Regions from separate parts of the Homo sapiens genome. Here region 1 is linked to region 2. A link means that fine-mapping ties the variant in region 2 to the expression of a gene that starts in the linked region. Tissue or cell type: esophagus mucosa. Region 2 holds a variant in brackets; the other region holds the start of a gene. All regions are shown on one strand. Distances are between the middles of the regions. Region 1 holds the start of THRB (thyroid hormone receptor beta). Region 2 overlaps THRB (thyroid hormone receptor beta).

Evidence for each region.
Region 1: it holds the start of THRB, and the variant in region 2 is fine-mapped to the expression of THRB in esophagus mucosa (GTEx, PIP above 0.99).

Annotation. Positions count from the first base shown.
Region 1 is chr3:24,491,063-24,499,402 of GRCh38, forward strand. THRB (thyroid hormone receptor beta) reads right to left here and starts at 3,788. Exons shown (of 11, transcript NM_001354712.2): 1 at 3,590-3,788. It overlaps THRB-AS1 (THRB antisense RNA 1), which reads left to right and starts at 3,025. Exons shown (of 2, transcript NR_046244.1): 1 at 3,025-3,429. RefSeq lists a silencer at 5,566-5,771.
Region 2 is chr3:24,442,665-24,451,004 of GRCh38, forward strand. The region is part of intron 1 of THRB (thyroid hormone receptor beta); the gene reads right to left. Among named protein-coding and RNA genes, the nearest start is that of THRB-AS1, 47 kb to the right of the region's middle. The variant C/A (reference allele first, on the strand shown) is at 4,710.

The DNA.
Region 1 (8,340 bases), 48 kb after region 2:
CTACATGTGTCATCCTTACAAGTTTAATGCATGCCACCTCCAGACCCCCTTTTTTTCTGTTAACTTGGCTACTACTAAGAAGCTCAGAGCCAAATTAAATACTCTAAAGCAGTAAGCACTTAGGATTGTAGTTTAATTATCTTCCCTCCTCTACAAGATTTTGATCTTTCTTCCCCTCCCATTTTTAACAGTCTGATTTTGTGAAATTTTTACTATGCATTTACTCAGCACACTTATGAAAGTCAATACTCTAGACACAAAAACAAATCACCATAATCTTCAATTATAATTTCCTTTTGCTCTCAATTGGCAAGAGTTTCCATGAATAACTAATTTGAAGATGACTCCTTTGATATTATGCTCTGGTCACTTGAAAACTCAAATAATGCAATATTTCCCACCATCATTTGGTTCAGAATACTTTTATGAAGCGGCAAAAGAGGGCAAAAAGAGGCTGGCTGACTTAACTAATAACATATGATAACCATCAGGTTATTTTCAAAGCTATCACCAAGACCTATTTATTTCTATCTTGTGTTGGATCCTGACCATTACATTTTGCCCCCTCACCAACCACCACTTTTGCAGCCCAAATTGTACCACCATGCACTGGTTGGTCCACTTAGGGCTGCCATTGCCAGAGGCACTGCCAGGACCTGCTGAGTGAGAAGACACTGCCATCACCCAGTGAAGTCTAGTCCCTGGAATTTCACTCTTAGCACTGGCAATGCTTCTGGAACTCATAAAGATTCTGCTGAAATTCAGGGAGTTGAAGGTCAATGTCTTCCAGGGATCAAGGTAACATGTCAGAAAAATTCTGCTGCTGAGGATTTCCATGTATTCAAGGCAAATGCCCTTAGGAGGAACTCGCAGAAATAGCTCTTTGCATTGTCACTACACAGAATGGAAGACCAGCTTTTATTTCGAAAAGAAAGAGAGAGAGAGAAAAATAAAGAGTGAACCATATAAGCATGGAATGTGTGCAACACACACATACACATGCACACACAGAATAGATCTTGGCATGCCCAACTGGCACCCACTTAGGATGTGTAGTCAGGTATTTTTGAGAACATAATATTTGGACACAATCATTAATTTATTCACCAAAGAGTTATCCAGCACCTACTGTGTGCCAAGTATTGTTCTAGATGCTGGAAAATAAGAGTGAGTGAGGCAGTCAAGAGTCCTGTGCTCATGGATTCGATATTCTAGGCAAGGATACAGGCGATCAACAAGCATCAATTGAAATGAACAATTCAGATTGCAAATACAATAAAGGAAAGAAAAAGAAGAACAAAACAAACAAACAAAGAGAAAAACCAGTGTGATGGGTCTGAAAAGGAATGAGGGACCGCCTTTGCTCAAGTGGTCAGGGAAGGGCTTTCTAAGAAGGTGACACGTAATCTTACACTAGAATGAGAAGACCAGGGCGAAGAAACCAATCACCTTTACTCTGATTTCCATCAAAAAGATGGGCTTACTAAAAAAAGAAACATGCAATACCATTTGTGGCTCCACACAACTCATGCTTTAAACAACTGCAAAAACCCCAGGAGAGGAAAGGAATCCACAGCTTTCTCTGCTTTTAAGGCGATTTTAAGAAATCACCTTTCCCAAAGATAATGGATTAAAAAGTTGTCTTAATTCATCTCTAATTATGGCAGAATTTACTACAAAGAAACTGAAAGGAGATACATGGAATATTCATTCCTCTACATAATGTCAGTTGCTTTATGTAACAATATTCCAATGTCAATAAAAGTATACCTTTGCATTGTAATGCCAACAGGAATTATTTCACTTTAAAAAACCAGTTCTGTAGCTATACTCAGTATTATTTATTTTTCACTGGCTATAAAATAAAGCCAAACTGTATTTACTAGCAGATGGTCTCACTTCCAATATATAATAAACCTCTGAGATCAGGTAAAAATAGATTCTGTTAGTATTTCTTTAACATGCTCAAATTATAAATGATCGTTCACCAATGTCTTTGTATAAAACACTCCAAACAAATCACTTGGTACTGGATTTCTGTTTGACTCAATTAAAACACTTAGCCACCTGGCATGAAAACATCCTAAAAACATCAACTGCTTAAAATACTTTGCACTGAAACACGTTTTTCATTGTTTCCTAGCCTCTGACTGATTTCGGAATTAGAAAGAATTAAGCAGAAGTGAATTGGGGAGCAGGTCAGTCACTGAATATTCAGAATGAATCATGAACACGTTAAAATGCAATTTTTATTTCTTTGCAGTGCATTGCATGCTATACATTCTTACAATTTAAATAAGCATACTAAACTAAAGCCAAATAATGTGAAGATTGCCCAACAGGTCTACATTACCTAATACATTTATCATTATATAAACTGCTGTGCTTGATATTAATACACTGTGCAAGGAATGCTTAATTTCTTGAACTTCCACACAGGTCTTTAAAACTGAATCTCACTAGTACCCAAGACCAATAATGTGCTGAGGAAGAAGGTATTTCAAATATATTTACTGATTACACAGTGTTTGAATCTTCAAAAATTCTAAATTTATGTGGACAAAGGAGAATGGAGAATCTGAACTTGGCTGTTCATGCAAACTCTTTCCTTTCTTTGACTCACTTTATGAATTGTTATGTTTCTAGATCCTTCTTTTAAAATTTTCCATTTGGGGAAACTTGTACATTTAAAAAAAATTCATCTCATTTTCTCCCTCCCCCTCCTTAAAATAAATAAGAAGGCTTAAGAATTAACACTAATAATAATCCCACAATGGTCATTGGGAAATCCTCCCCCAAAGTGACAACTGCCGCTAAGAAGGGCAAAATCCACTAAGAATGAAAATTCCCCCAAATGAGTCCTTCTCCGAGGGGGTGGAGGTCACACAGTTGGCACAATTGGTATCACAACCAACTCGAGGAGACCCAGAGGAAGATGCTGCGCCAAGAGAAGCAAAGCGAAGGAGCGCGACCCAGGAGGCTAGCGAAATCCCCGCCAAGCCCCCAGGAGGCGGAGAGAAGCCCAGTCGCCAGGCACCGGCCACGGCGCACGCCAACATCCAGGATAATTCTCCTTTCCAAGCCCGGGAGTTCCGGGGCAGGCGAAAAAGGGGGGATGGGAGACCCACAGTCCCTTTAACCCTCCCCCCTGGCCTGCCAACCTTTTCCGAACCCCCATGTCACACAACTTCCTCATCATGGAAACTTCCACTGGGTTCGGCGCTGAGGATGCCAAACTCCATTTCACAAGGAACATGTCAACAGCTGGGCTTGGGGTTTGAGGAACAGAGCCGCTGCGATTGGAACAGAGCCCGGCCACCCTGTTCCACCACTGTCCACTCCGTAGCTCCCAGCCTGCCGCCGCGCGGTGCCCGAACACGAGAGGGCACCTCCTCCCAGATCCGGGGCGCAGAAGCCCCGCGGAGGCAGGTAATCAGGCTGATGACACCCCCACCACCCACGCTCACCCGCCTGCCCGCCCGCGCGCGCTCGGCTTAGCCGCCCGCACCCCTCCGGGTTCTTGCGACGCTCCGTCACCATCCCGCCCACCCTGTGGACAGTTGGAACTGTCGCCCCCTCCTCCTCTCACCCCGCTGCCTCCGCGCGGTCCTCTAGCCAAATTACCAGTGCCCTGGAGCCGGTTGGGTTGAGCGCCCCTGCCCGGGGAAGGTAGCCTGCGGGCTCTTGCCCCGAGCCCGCGGAGCAGGAGGTCTCTTTTCCAAGCGCACTCACATTATTCATGCAAAGTTAATCCCCGCCGCGTCACGGCCGCCCGCCCGAGGATGTGCGCCTTCCTTGGCCAAGCCCCGCAGTCTCCACCCTCCTCCGCCCCCTCCTCCCGGCGGCGGGGTCCCGGGGAGCGCCGGCGACTGGGCGTCGCGCGAGTCCTGCAAAATGTCAACTCCTTGGGCGAAGAGAGGCGGCCGCAGCCAGGGCCGCGCCGCACCTCCCCGGTCTCTCCACTTTTATAGGCGTAGGAAGCTACTGCGGCTGGGGCACCAGAGTCCCCGCCTCTCCGGGTCCCCCGCGTGCCCGGCCCGCCCCGGCCCGCTTCCCGGGCGCTGTCTTACTCCGGGCCCGGGGCGCCTGCTCCGCGCCGCGTCTGCGAACCGGTGACCTGGTTTCCCCTCCAGCCCTCACGGCTGTCCGACTTGCGCGGCGGTGGCGGCGGCGGCCAAGAGCAGGCAAACCCGGCTCCGCCAGGGGCGCAGCGAGGAAATGGCCTCCTGGCGCACACCCCGCCGCCGCCGCCAGCCATCGCCACCGCCCCGGGCTGCCCAGCCGGTACAGACGCCCCCTGCCAGGCTCCGGGCCAGCGCTCCGACGCGCTCACAGCGCCCGGCTTGCCGACCCCGACCCCGACCCCGAGTCCTACGCACTCGAGGTCCCCGGGCCGGCCGCCTCCGCACCTGCCTCCCCAGGTGTGGGCGCTCCCCCTCCTCCTAATCCCGGCCGTGCCCTCCCAGGGTTGGTGACGGTGCTGTGGGTTTGGTGGCCGCGCGTCCACCCACCCGATTGCCTGCGCGCATAGGTGCGGGTTTGGGCGTCATTACTCTAGTTGGAGAAGAGGAAAGAATGGGGAACGAGTGACACCGGGACCGGAGGGCGAGTCTTCCAGGAGCACGTCTCGGCCTTCTTTGCCCGGCCCGACCGGCCCGACCCGTGCCGCAGCGCTCCTCCCTCCGCTCCTAAACCACTTGTGGCGCGTGTCGGGAATACAGGGCGCTCTGGCTCTTCTTGGGGCCTCCGCTGGTCCGACCATCTGGCAGCTCTCTTAACCACCACGGCCACCCCACGAATGGAAGTTTGGGACGTGCCTGGGTTGCCCTTAAGGAGGACACCCCCGCCCCCACCGCCATTATGCATATCGTGGGAGAGGCGCGTACAGGGCTGAGACACTCCTCAGGTCCCAGAACGGCCGCCCTATTAATTTGTCTTTGCCCTGGAAATGTATAGATAAAACCAGGAAGACAAAAATAATGTATACTCTTCAAGAGATCTTTCCCGGGCAAATATAGGTCTCTCAAATGCCCCCGACCTTAAGTCCTGGAGACCAGGAAGAGACTTGCTTTCTGAGCTAGAAGGATACTTGGGAAATACCGAGTCCTCACTCAGCTAAAAGGTAGTCAATAAGGAACTATAGTTGCAACAAAACTACTTTGACAACAGAGTACAATTAATTTCTTATAGACAGTATTAAAATAATTCCGACATCATAATTTAATATTCACATCTATTCGTGTAACACGCAGTATAATAGAGTTATGACGATATGGATCCTCAGCTGCCTGACAATGTATAGGTTATTTATTGGAAGGTTCTCTAGATTTCCAGCCAGTGACATGTATGTTTTATTCTCGCTTCTTCTGAGCGTCCCAGGGAAAGGGGTGAGAGGCCCCCCACCCCTGCTGACAGCATTAACAACCACCCCGCTGGATAAGCAGGGTTTCACTGATGCACTTTTAAGAAAGTTGCAGGCCCCAGAGACCCCATTTCCCTTTGGTCCTCGGTGAGAAGTCCGTGCTTTCTTCTCTACTCTTAATAAGTCTGCACCATAGGACTTGCAGGCTTCTGTAGTTGGAGAGCTGTTCTCCTTTGCAGGGAAGTTCCTGGGCTTTGCTCCAAAGCTGCCCCGGAATGTTTTGGTTGGTTTGGAGAAAAGCTGTGGCGTCTACACCACTTGTTCCAAGCAGGCGGCCCCCTGGTGGCTAACGGGGGGTGAGAAAGCTGGCCACTGAGGAAGAAGTCTGGCGCAGGTAGGCCCCAACAGTTGACAACCTAGTCTTCGGGTCTTCTTCACAGCGTGTGAACAGCTTAGTATTACCGCGGGGGGGCGGGAGGGGGTTGGGGGGTGGTGAGGTGAAGCAAATCTTCCTTCAACACGGTGGATCATGGGCTTCTCGGCCTACTGGAACTTTTAATTTTTTTCTCTTCCTGAGTATAACTTGGAGCTAAATTATTTAAGAAGGAGACATACAGAGGACAAAATGAAATGTAACAAAAACTGTTGCTTCTCTTTGTTCAAGGGCTTTGTCTTTCTGATCTCATTTTGCCCAGAAAATTCAGAAATGAGCCAATTAAAGCATGAAATAAATAAAGGGCGTGGCATTATTCAAACAATCCATGAGACTGTGGTAGTAACAATGTTCTACAACAATGGGGGAGGGCAGTTTTACTGCAATGTTAATGATAACGTGAACTACTAGGGTTCCATTTTGAACAGGACCTCTGAGGGCTGTCCTACAGGCTGCATGATGATGGTAAAGAAGGGTTACCAAGAGATCATGTCATTTATTTTTCTGGTTTTACACAAGGTAGGACAATGGAGGAGAATGTCATGATGACTTGATTGAAGGAAGAACATTTATTCAAACTTTAGATTATGTGGTCATGTGTTCCAGCTGACTTGAGAGGGCACACCAAGGCTGTTTCCAGGACCCATTCCCATATTTCACCATAGACATCCTCATTACCAGGATCTATACCTTTAAGCTGATGACTCAGTTCAAGAAAGCAATTCATTCATATATTTATTTATTTAGCAACTACTGGTGTAAGAAAATGAATGAAACAGAACCTCATAGGGCTCGGATTGGGCAGAAGTGAGTGAGGCCAGTGATACAAGTGCAGGGTCTGAGCCTGCCTTTATTTAAAATTTTGATGTATTGTTCATCATGAATAATTGTTGCATTAATTTTGATTTTTAAAATAGTGCATTAAAATATTTCTCCTGATTTACTGAGGCTTTTTTTTTTTTCTTTTTTGGCATCCCCTTAAATTTCACACCAGGGATGAGTGCCTCACTTGCCTAAACCTAGTCCCTGCCCTGCTATGCCCTCAGTGTTACCAGAGTCTTTTCAGAGAAGCAAAGTTCAAGTTAGAATGTCCTAGATGTCAAAGATAATTAATATATAGTGAAGGATTTGGGGTCAGGGAGTTAGAGACGTGGGCGTGAGGGGAGGGAAAAATCAGGGAAGATTTCATGGAAAATGGTGGCACTTGAACCAATCCATCAAAGATGGACCACATTTTGCCAGGGAGTATTGGGACTGGAACCCCTGGTATTGTTTTGCTTATTCAGCTACTTCTCAAGCTGGCTGTGCAGCCACCTGACCTAGCCCTGGAGATTCTGCTTCTGTCTGTTCATTGTTAGTTCTTGGAACTTATTTTTTCTATGAGGGCTCCAGTGATTCTGGTCCATAGCAGCTGGGTAAGAACTCCAACCCTTCAGGAAAGACAGCTTCTTGGGGAAGATGACAGGGTCAAAATTATCTAATTCAAGTACACTCTAATTCACAGCACAAAACTAACTTTTTTATTTCATATCTTGATATATGCCCGTTTTTACCAACACTCTGCCTTTGGCTTACTTTTGAATAAAGGAGACCAGAAAGGAAAAGGAACTATAGGTTGCCTTATCTTTCTCTTTCCTTCTATGTCATCATTTTCAAACTAAGTGGTTACAGAGAAGTATTAACATAAGAAAAGACAGAGAAAGTTTCCTTGGTTGTTACCTTCTTTTTGCATTCAAATCAGGCTTTGGTTGGAATGGAAAGCGTGGCAAACCCCATTTTGGGGTTGTCAGTGTCCTCACTTAGTCATTGATGTGACATGCTTACCTCATACTCAATTTGAGTTTTGCAGAACTCCCACACATTGTGTGCCCACAGGGATTCTGTGCTTATGGGGCAACAAGAATGCTATGTGTGAGTGGAACAAGTAAAGAATGGCAGCAGCTATGCATGTTATCTGTATTTCCTCTGTTCATGCACATGCTCCATTGTCCCATCAGCCTTCATTTACAAAACAAAAGTTCAAAGATAAAATTATTAGGAATTTCATTACGGTGACAACAGAGCATTAAATGAAGTGCCAGGCCTCAAGCACCAAGCCCTTCCCAGCATGGGTTGTATGCAGCTGTCCAGATCACATGCCCATGAAGCTGGCCATGGGGAAAAAACTTGATCCTTTATTGTGGTAGAAGCATAGGGCATGTTGGAGATGCAGTAGACATGCTGGCATGGCTGGTTATAGCAAGGAGTACATAACATAGCTAACATGTATTAGACATGTATTATGTTTTACGTACTGTCCTAAATATTTCATACATCTTTTAAAGTTTGCCAGAGGACCCTGTGAAACAGTATTATTATGTACTTCATTTTCCAGATGTTAAAAATTAGGAAGATCAAATAATCTGCTCAAGCTCAGGCCTGGGTACTGGGTGACAGAGGGTATACTCTTAACCAGCTCATCATGCTACCTGCATGCAACACAAGGAGTTATTGGATAGGCACATGAGGCTGGAAAAGGTGAGCATGTTCTGGCAGTCATGAGACA
Region 2 (8,340 bases):
AAATACAAAAGTAGCCAGGTGTAGTGGCGCATGCCTGTAATCCCAGCTACTCGGGAGGCTGACGCAGGAGAATTGCTTGAACCTGGGAGGCAGAGGTTGCGGTGAGCCGAGATCGTGCCATTGTACTCCAGCCTGGGCAACAAGAGTGAAACTCCGTCTCAAAAAAAAAAAAAAAACAAAAACAAAAACAGAAAACTAAGGAATAATAACTACAAGATCATGTCACAGAAGTAAGGTGCTGGGCACGGTGGCTCACGTCTATAATCCCAGCATTCTGGGAGGCCGAGGCGGGTGGATCACTAGGTCAGGAGATCGAGACCATCCTGGCCAACAATGGTGAAACTCCGTCTGTACTAAAAATACAAAAATTAGCTGGGTGTGGTGTCATGTGCCTGTAACCCCAGCTATTTGGGAGGCTGAGGCAGGAGAATTGCTTGAACCTGGGAGGCAGAGATTGCAATGAGCCGAGATCACACCAGCACTCCAGCCTGGCAACAGAGTGAGATTCCATCTCAAACAAACAAACGATACTGACAGAAGGACAATTTTTAGGTATAATATGAATTACCAAAATTGCCACAAATAGAAGTAGAAACACTGAATAGATGAATTGATTAGAGAAAACAATCTGACAACAACAAATAGAAACAACAACAGCAAAAATCTTTAAAAGTTATAAAAGTATTATCTGGTTCAAAAAATAATCCCGATACAGAGAATTTCAGAGAAAAAAAAATTGCCCATGAAAATATAATTTCCATAGGTGCAGAACACAGAAAATGATAAAATCTTTCTAATCATTACATAAAGTTTACATAATTTTGATATCAAAACTAATAAGATAGCATAAAAATTCAACTAAAGACCAAATCATTAGGAAAATTGATACAATAATCTCAAACAAATATGGAATACAGCAGTAAGTTAAGAAAACATTTCATCAGGGCCAAGTAGGCTTTGGTCCAAGAATAAAAAGATGATTAAATATTAGGAAATCTGTAATTATAGTGCACCATTTTAATAGATCAAAGGCAAAACTTATGCAATAATTCAAAAGAAACTATGATACTCCATATCAAGTCTGGTGTTAAACACATTATAAATAATTCTTACTGGATACTCATAATATCCTCACAAGATATTTACATGATTATCTTCATATTACAGAGTAAGAGACTGAAATTCGAAGGGAATAAATAAATTGCTTAATGTTACACAATTCTAAGAGGAGGAGGTATAATTTGACTCCAGCTCTGTCTGGCCATAAATCCCATACTCTGGCTTCCATATTATATTCTCCTCATGGATGATAATTTACCAAAATCATCCAAAAGGCATTTTATAGTATTCCAAAACCCATTTTTTTAATTTTAAAAATTCTCAGCATATTAGGAATGCAAAAAAATTTCTTTAACATGGTTAGAAAAAAATCTATCATCAAATAAATAGCTGTTAAAATCAGAAACAAGATAAGAGTAGAATGCCAGTGAGTATTTTGAACTTTGCTGTGGAAATTCTGGCTAATGTTATAGGACATAATCAACAAAGAAGAGATACATTATTTGGAAAGATGATAGAATCATTTTTTGATTATAATATAATTGTTTATAAATAAAACTCAGGAGAACTAAGTGAAAAATAATTATCATTAACAAACAGAATCAAAAGACAAAATACTAAAAGCAATAGCTTTCATATAACAGTAACCACCAATTAGAAAACAGTATCTTAAATAATCTCAAAAATAATTAAATAAAAAGTATCTAATACCTAGGAATAACCTTAAAAAGAATGCAGGACCTCTACAAATAAATGATTTTTTTGTCATATCACATAAGACTTGAAAAAGAGATATTTTGAAATTATTGAAAATTGTGAAGATGCAAACTTTTCCAAAATAATTCATAATTTGCACATAATTCTATACAAAGTACAACAAGTTTTGTTTTGTTTTTTGAGATGGAGTTTCGCTCTTGTTGCCCAGGCCAGAGTGCAATGGCATGATCTCGGCTCACTGCAACCTTGTGCCTTCCGGGTTCGAGCCTCTCAAGTAGCTGGATACAGGCGTGTGCCACCATGCCTGGCTAATTTTGTATTTTTAGTGGAGATGGGGTTTCACCATGTTGGTCAGGCCGGCTTGAACTCCTGACCTCAAGTGATCCACCTTCCTCAGCGTCCCAAAGTGCTGGGATTACAGGCATGAGGCACCGTGCCCGGTCCAAGATTTTTTAAATTTGAAAATTAATTCCAATACTCACCTTAAAGAATGCTGAGACAATAACTGCTAAAATAAATTTAAAATACAGAAAAATGAAAGAGTTAGGGGCCACCATGTCAGAAACAGGCTATAATACAAATTATAATGGGATATATAAACTATAATATGGTTCTGCTACAATAATTAATAGATGGTTACAGAAATAGAGAGCCCAGATACAGAAATGTATATACCAATTAAAAGATAGATTTAATCAAAAAGTCAGTGAAGAAAAGAGCACTTATTTAATAAATGGCATTGAATTAACTATTTGAATAATTTAAAATGTATGTTGCTATCTCATACTATATGTTAAAATAAAGACAGATAAATGTTATGTTAAATTTTAAAATAAAATAATAAAGGATTATGTAAAATACAGGTGGTTATTTATCAGCTATTGAGCCTAGCAAAATAATTTCTAAACATAAAGGTAGTGAAATGTGTCAGAGAGTAATAGTAGATTTGACTGGAGTAGCAAAGGTGAAACACATTTATATATCAGAGAGCAGAATACTCAAAAGGCAAACACCAAACTGGAAAAATAATTTCCAGAGACATAACACGCAAAGGTAGTTCATAAGCAAAATATTAACATCTCAATGGATAAATGGGCAAAGAACACAGATCAACAAGTTACCAAAAATCCTTATAATTATCCAATAAGCATTCAAAATTTTTAAAATTTTTTTTAAAAAACTAATGCTTAATGCTGTTGAATGTGAGGAGAAATAGTCACGACACAGAGAGTAGGTGTGTAAATTAATATCTTTGGCCACATCGATGAAGAATCATAAAAACGTCCATGCCCTTTGATTGCCTCTCCTAGGAACTGTCCAATAGAAACAATTAAGAAGGTGAAAAAAGATGTAATGCAAAACTATTCAAGGCCGTATCATTCATTCTAGGCAGAAGCATAAACATTCAACCATAGACGTACATCCAAAAGTGCAATATTATACAGTCATTGAATAATCATGTTTTGAAAAATATTTAATGTCATGAGAAAATTTTCCTAGTCAAGTGAACATAAGTAAGATATAAAACTTTGTCCAGACCATAATTGTGATTCTGTGATGTAACCATATATGCAGAGAAAAAAACTGGAAGAAAATATGCCAAAATGTTACAGCAGCTATCTCTGAATACTAAGGTAGGCAATTTTTATTTTATACACTGAATATCAGAATAAAATTTATTAAAGAATAAAAACAATACTGTCATGAGAAATCAGAAGCTGGACACACTGGTCATGACCTTCTAAGGATGTAAGGAAGCCTTCGCCTTTTATGTTCCTCTAATTTTACTCCATGATCTCACAGGGAAATGAGTGGAGCAAGTGGCTCATCAGCCACCTTGGCCTCTGAAAAGAATTGTCCCAGAAGCCATCTCTCTATCAAACCTGGCTAATTTCTTCTCTCCTCCTTCAGCTCTGGCCTCTTCCTGCTCACCTCTGCCAATCTCCTTTCCTTCCACTCAAAGTCTGGCCACAACAAAAAAGAAAGCAGGTTTGGAGAGAGGTCAGTATGCTGGGTTATTGTCAAAGGAGTTATGTGTGTTTGTGTGTTTCTGCAAAAGTGCATTCTGCTGCTGCTAAATTGTCATTCCATACACTATCTACATTGGAAAGATCTTTCTCAAAAAAAAAAAAAAAAGAAAGAAAGAAATATACTTTTGAAAATTCCTGCAATGCCTACTGTGACAGTGACATCAGAAGTCTATTTGTTCTTCACAAGTATAATTCATGGAGCTTTATTGAAACCATATCATTTGATCACTCAACAATATTCAGCAAATCTTTGTGGGGTGCTCTCTATGGTTCTGGGAAATATAATGTGAGAGTGGGCGGCTGAATCATGGTCCTCAGAGATGTCCATAGCTTTATCCTGAAACTTGTGAATAAGTTACTTCCTATAGCAATACTTACACATGTGATTGAGGTAAGGATCTTGAGACAGGGAGCTTATCCTGCAATATTTGGGTGGGCCCAAATAATCACAGAGATCTTTACAAGGAAATAGGCAGAAGAGTCAAGATAGTTGTTGTCCTTGCAAAGTATTTTTTGCAACTTCCCAGTCTCCCATCATTACCGGGGACACAGTTATGCAAATATAGCCTCCATTTTTATAAGAAATGAAGGAATTAAAAAATAGAAGTAGATGAAAACTATTTAGCAACATATATTTTAATTATAAAATTAGGAGGCACAGATTCCCCTTTCCAATTAGTTTTTAAGTCAAATCAATCAAATTTCAAAGAGCAGTTATGCATTTATTTTTAAAATTTAATTAGGAAGAAATTCGAAGCAATTAATGAATGTTATCAATTATAATGCATTACCATGAGAAAACCCCAACAACCCTTAAGTATGATTGAATATTTTGTACTCTGTAATGATGAACTAGGCTTAGCCATTTAAAAAAATTAACTCCTGAGCTTAAAATAATCTCAA[C/A]AAGTCAAACAGGTCTAAGTGAACCTGCAGTGAACCTAGGAGAGAACTTTCTCATGCTACACCCTTCTTTGCAGTAATGGGAGGGTTTGATCTCAGAGGGAATACCTTTGTTTCATCGTGTCCTGTTAATATATTAATAAGTTCAATTGCCAGCTGTTCATTTTCATGATGACACAGGGATATCTTTATTTCTATTTATCCTGTATATAATCAGGGGCACCATGACCCTCTTCTTTGAAATGAATGATTTCAAGCTTAATGGAAATTTAAAGTACTATATAGCAAAACTCTATGATCTGAGTCCTGGAGGGGAAGGGGTGAGTAGACATTAGATAATAAATCCCCAATGAAAGCCAAGAGAACTCGAGAAAGCCTGACCATTTTGGTCCATAAAATGTGTCAGGGGTCAGTGCTCTGCAAATGGGAGGAGATGGGGAATGAAGGTTTCATAATTTAGTGATCACCCAAATGGTATCGGAGGAGTTTGAACTATAAAGAGAAAAGTAGTTGCCTCTTGCTGACCACCAAGATTGCTACAGGTTTCAAGGAAAGAGAGCGCTAGTCATCACGACCACTTCATTTGGTAATTATTTATGAAGTACCTTCCTGCCCTTGATGACGAATTCTTTCTTTCTTTGAAACCTGTAGCGATCTTGTTGGTCAGCAAGAAGCAACTACTTATTTCTTTATAGTTCAAACTCTTATGATACAGTTGGGTGACAACTGAATTATGAATCCTTCTTTCCACATGTGCCATTTGCAGAGCACTGACCCCTGACACATTCCAAGTACAGAAATGGTCAGACTCTCTTGAGTTCTCTTGGTTTTCACTGGCGATTTATCATTAAGGATGTAAGTATAACTTAACTTTAAAAAAGACTCGCATATATGAAAAAATCAGCATAATCACATAGAAACGCAATTCAGGGATCAAAATGCTATTTTTAAAAAATCTTTTAAAAGTCTCCATTGTAAAAATGATTACTGCTCAACTCTGAGAAAAGTAATGATACCAAAAGAGGTTAACCAGAATGAAATGTACAATGTTGGTAATTAATGATTACTTTAGATAACTATGTAAACATTTTTTCAGAGGCACTTGCTATCAATTAGGAAAGCTACAATACACAGATAAGCAGGCCTTGTCCTGGTTTGTTCCATCGGCTAGAGAAGCAGCCTTTAGCTAGGGGTCTTTATTAAAAAGACTTGTATACCTCCCATCTTGACAACCTAAAAGTTCATTCTCTGAACATAAACACAACCCATTAAGTACCTGTCATGAGGTTATTACAAAACATATAAAAATATAAAACTTGGTCTTTGCACATTTATAACAGATTCAGGTTGTTTGGCTAAATGTACATTAAATGTTCAAGAGTCAGCAAGTTCTGGGTATGAAAACTAATATTTAAACAGAGAAATGCCTTTTCTGAGAAAGAAAACCCCTGCCACTGGCTTTGGAGAGTAAGAACACAAGCCAGCAGATGACAGGGAAGGACTCTATGCCACTAGTTAAAAATAAATGACAGAGAAGCCCATGCAAAAGCAGGCCAGAAAGATGCGAATTTAGAGAATGGCAAACAAAACAGCCAAAATAAGGTCAAGGACAGATGTAAGACAGAAGGAAGTCAAAGCAGGAATGGCTTGAGTTTGAAGGCAAAGGCAGAATTCTGAATTTGACAGAGGGAGTGATGGGCAGCCATGTGGCTAGTTAGAGGGTGATTTAAAGTTGGCCAATGAAAGACAAAGTATGAAAGGGAAAATCAGTTCTTCAGAAATGATTATTAAAAATTCTTGAAGGCAAGCTACTTACAGCCATATTTCAGTACAAGCATGGTGAACACTGTATACCAATATAAGGAGTGTTCCTTATTTTAAATCTGTTCTCATCTATTTTCATGGATTTCACATATATATGACCCATTTCTGACAGCAGGGAAGGTCACTTTCATATTAATATTCAATATGTCACACCACTGTCATATCAACTATCCTCAGGCAGGTCTGATGGCTGGTTGACAGAAATGGGCATTTTGAGAGGAAATTCCCAGAACCAAGTAACCCAGCTGGAGAATACCGCTGCAGGAAAGACAGCAGTACTATATATTAACTCAGCAGGGAAAACAGCTAAATTGTTCTTCCTGCTTATTAATAGACCAACATTTAGTCCAACAGCTCTAATTTTCTGTGGAATTTTTGACTTTCTCTCTTGAAAACTGAAAGTCATGTTAATGGTTTTCTGCATAATGCTTGTCTGTATGGTTTAGGGATATGAGGGAAGATTTTTTCAAAATAGGGAAGCCGGTCCAAAGAATATTAGCCTTATCTTTTCCCTAAATACTATATATGTGAGACTATCTTAATTCAAAGGAGGCGATATAGTGAAAAGCTTTTCTGTGCTAGTTTTAGTAATAACTTGTAATAATGGGAAAAAAAGAAGATTAAGTTTGAGTGAATAATAGGACGCTAAAAAAGAAGATACTAACTTGGCTCTTAAGTTTTTAGTGGGACTTACTGCTTTGATTTATAAGCAATAATCATAGAGGCAGAAATGAGACAATCTAGCATCTAAGCATTCAAATGAACATTTTAAGAATTAATGAGGAAGGAAGGAAAGGAGGGAAGAAGGAGGAAGGGGAGAAGGAAGAAAGGAGGGGAGTTAGCCGGGAAGTAAACAGAGGGAAGAAGGGAGAGAGAAGGAAGGAAACTAGACACTCTTAAAGAAAGCATCATAACTTAATATTTAAGATTCTTATTTTATACAATTAAAAATCTCGTTTAATTATTTAAGAAAGAAAACTTCCACAGGTATAATGTACAACTGTACCTTAGAGACCATGTGATATGTATTCATAGTCTGAAAAGTCTTTGTATTTATTCTTGGGAAATAAGGACTACACACTCAAAAAGAAATTCCTGCAGAGAGGCAGGTAAATGGACAGCACGATTTACAGTAGACCTCACATTTACACATTGGCAACCCTCACAAAAGCTGATATGCCCTGACGTTTATTTCCTCTGAACATTTACTTACGAGTGTCAAAGTCTGAAAGAAACCTCATTACAAAAAGTGACATTTTATCTCCATTTGTGCATTTATGAACGTATTCTACATTTTTCTGAAGTGTTATTTATTCTTTACTTTAAAAATGTACTACCCAATTTATCTATGAGGTCTTTCAGTCTCAATTCATGACAACCTTTGTACTTACTGTTCCTAAAAACTCAAAGACGAGTTTCTGAGCTTTGTAATAAAGAACTTCATTCTGCTGTACAAATTAAACCAGGTGTAGGTAAACCAGTGTAGGTAAATGAAAAACTGGGGTTAAAAAGAAAAAGATGCCAATCTATAGTAGGCTCAGCTTTTTTTTGAGAGAGAGATTAAGGTGCATACAGTCAACTGGTGTGAAGGTCACCAAACAAAATGTTGCAATCTTAAAGTGCCACTGACATGCAGTCAGTGTGCTGCAGCAGCTCAGGATTAATCCATGCAGCTCTTTCTCCTTCCTTGCTATTGTTTCAGAATCCTTCATAAATGTGCATTATGAAGTCTGTTATATTTGCAGGAAAACATTCTAAAAATTAGACAAATTTTTCTTCAAATTGAAATAAAAATATGTAAATAATATAA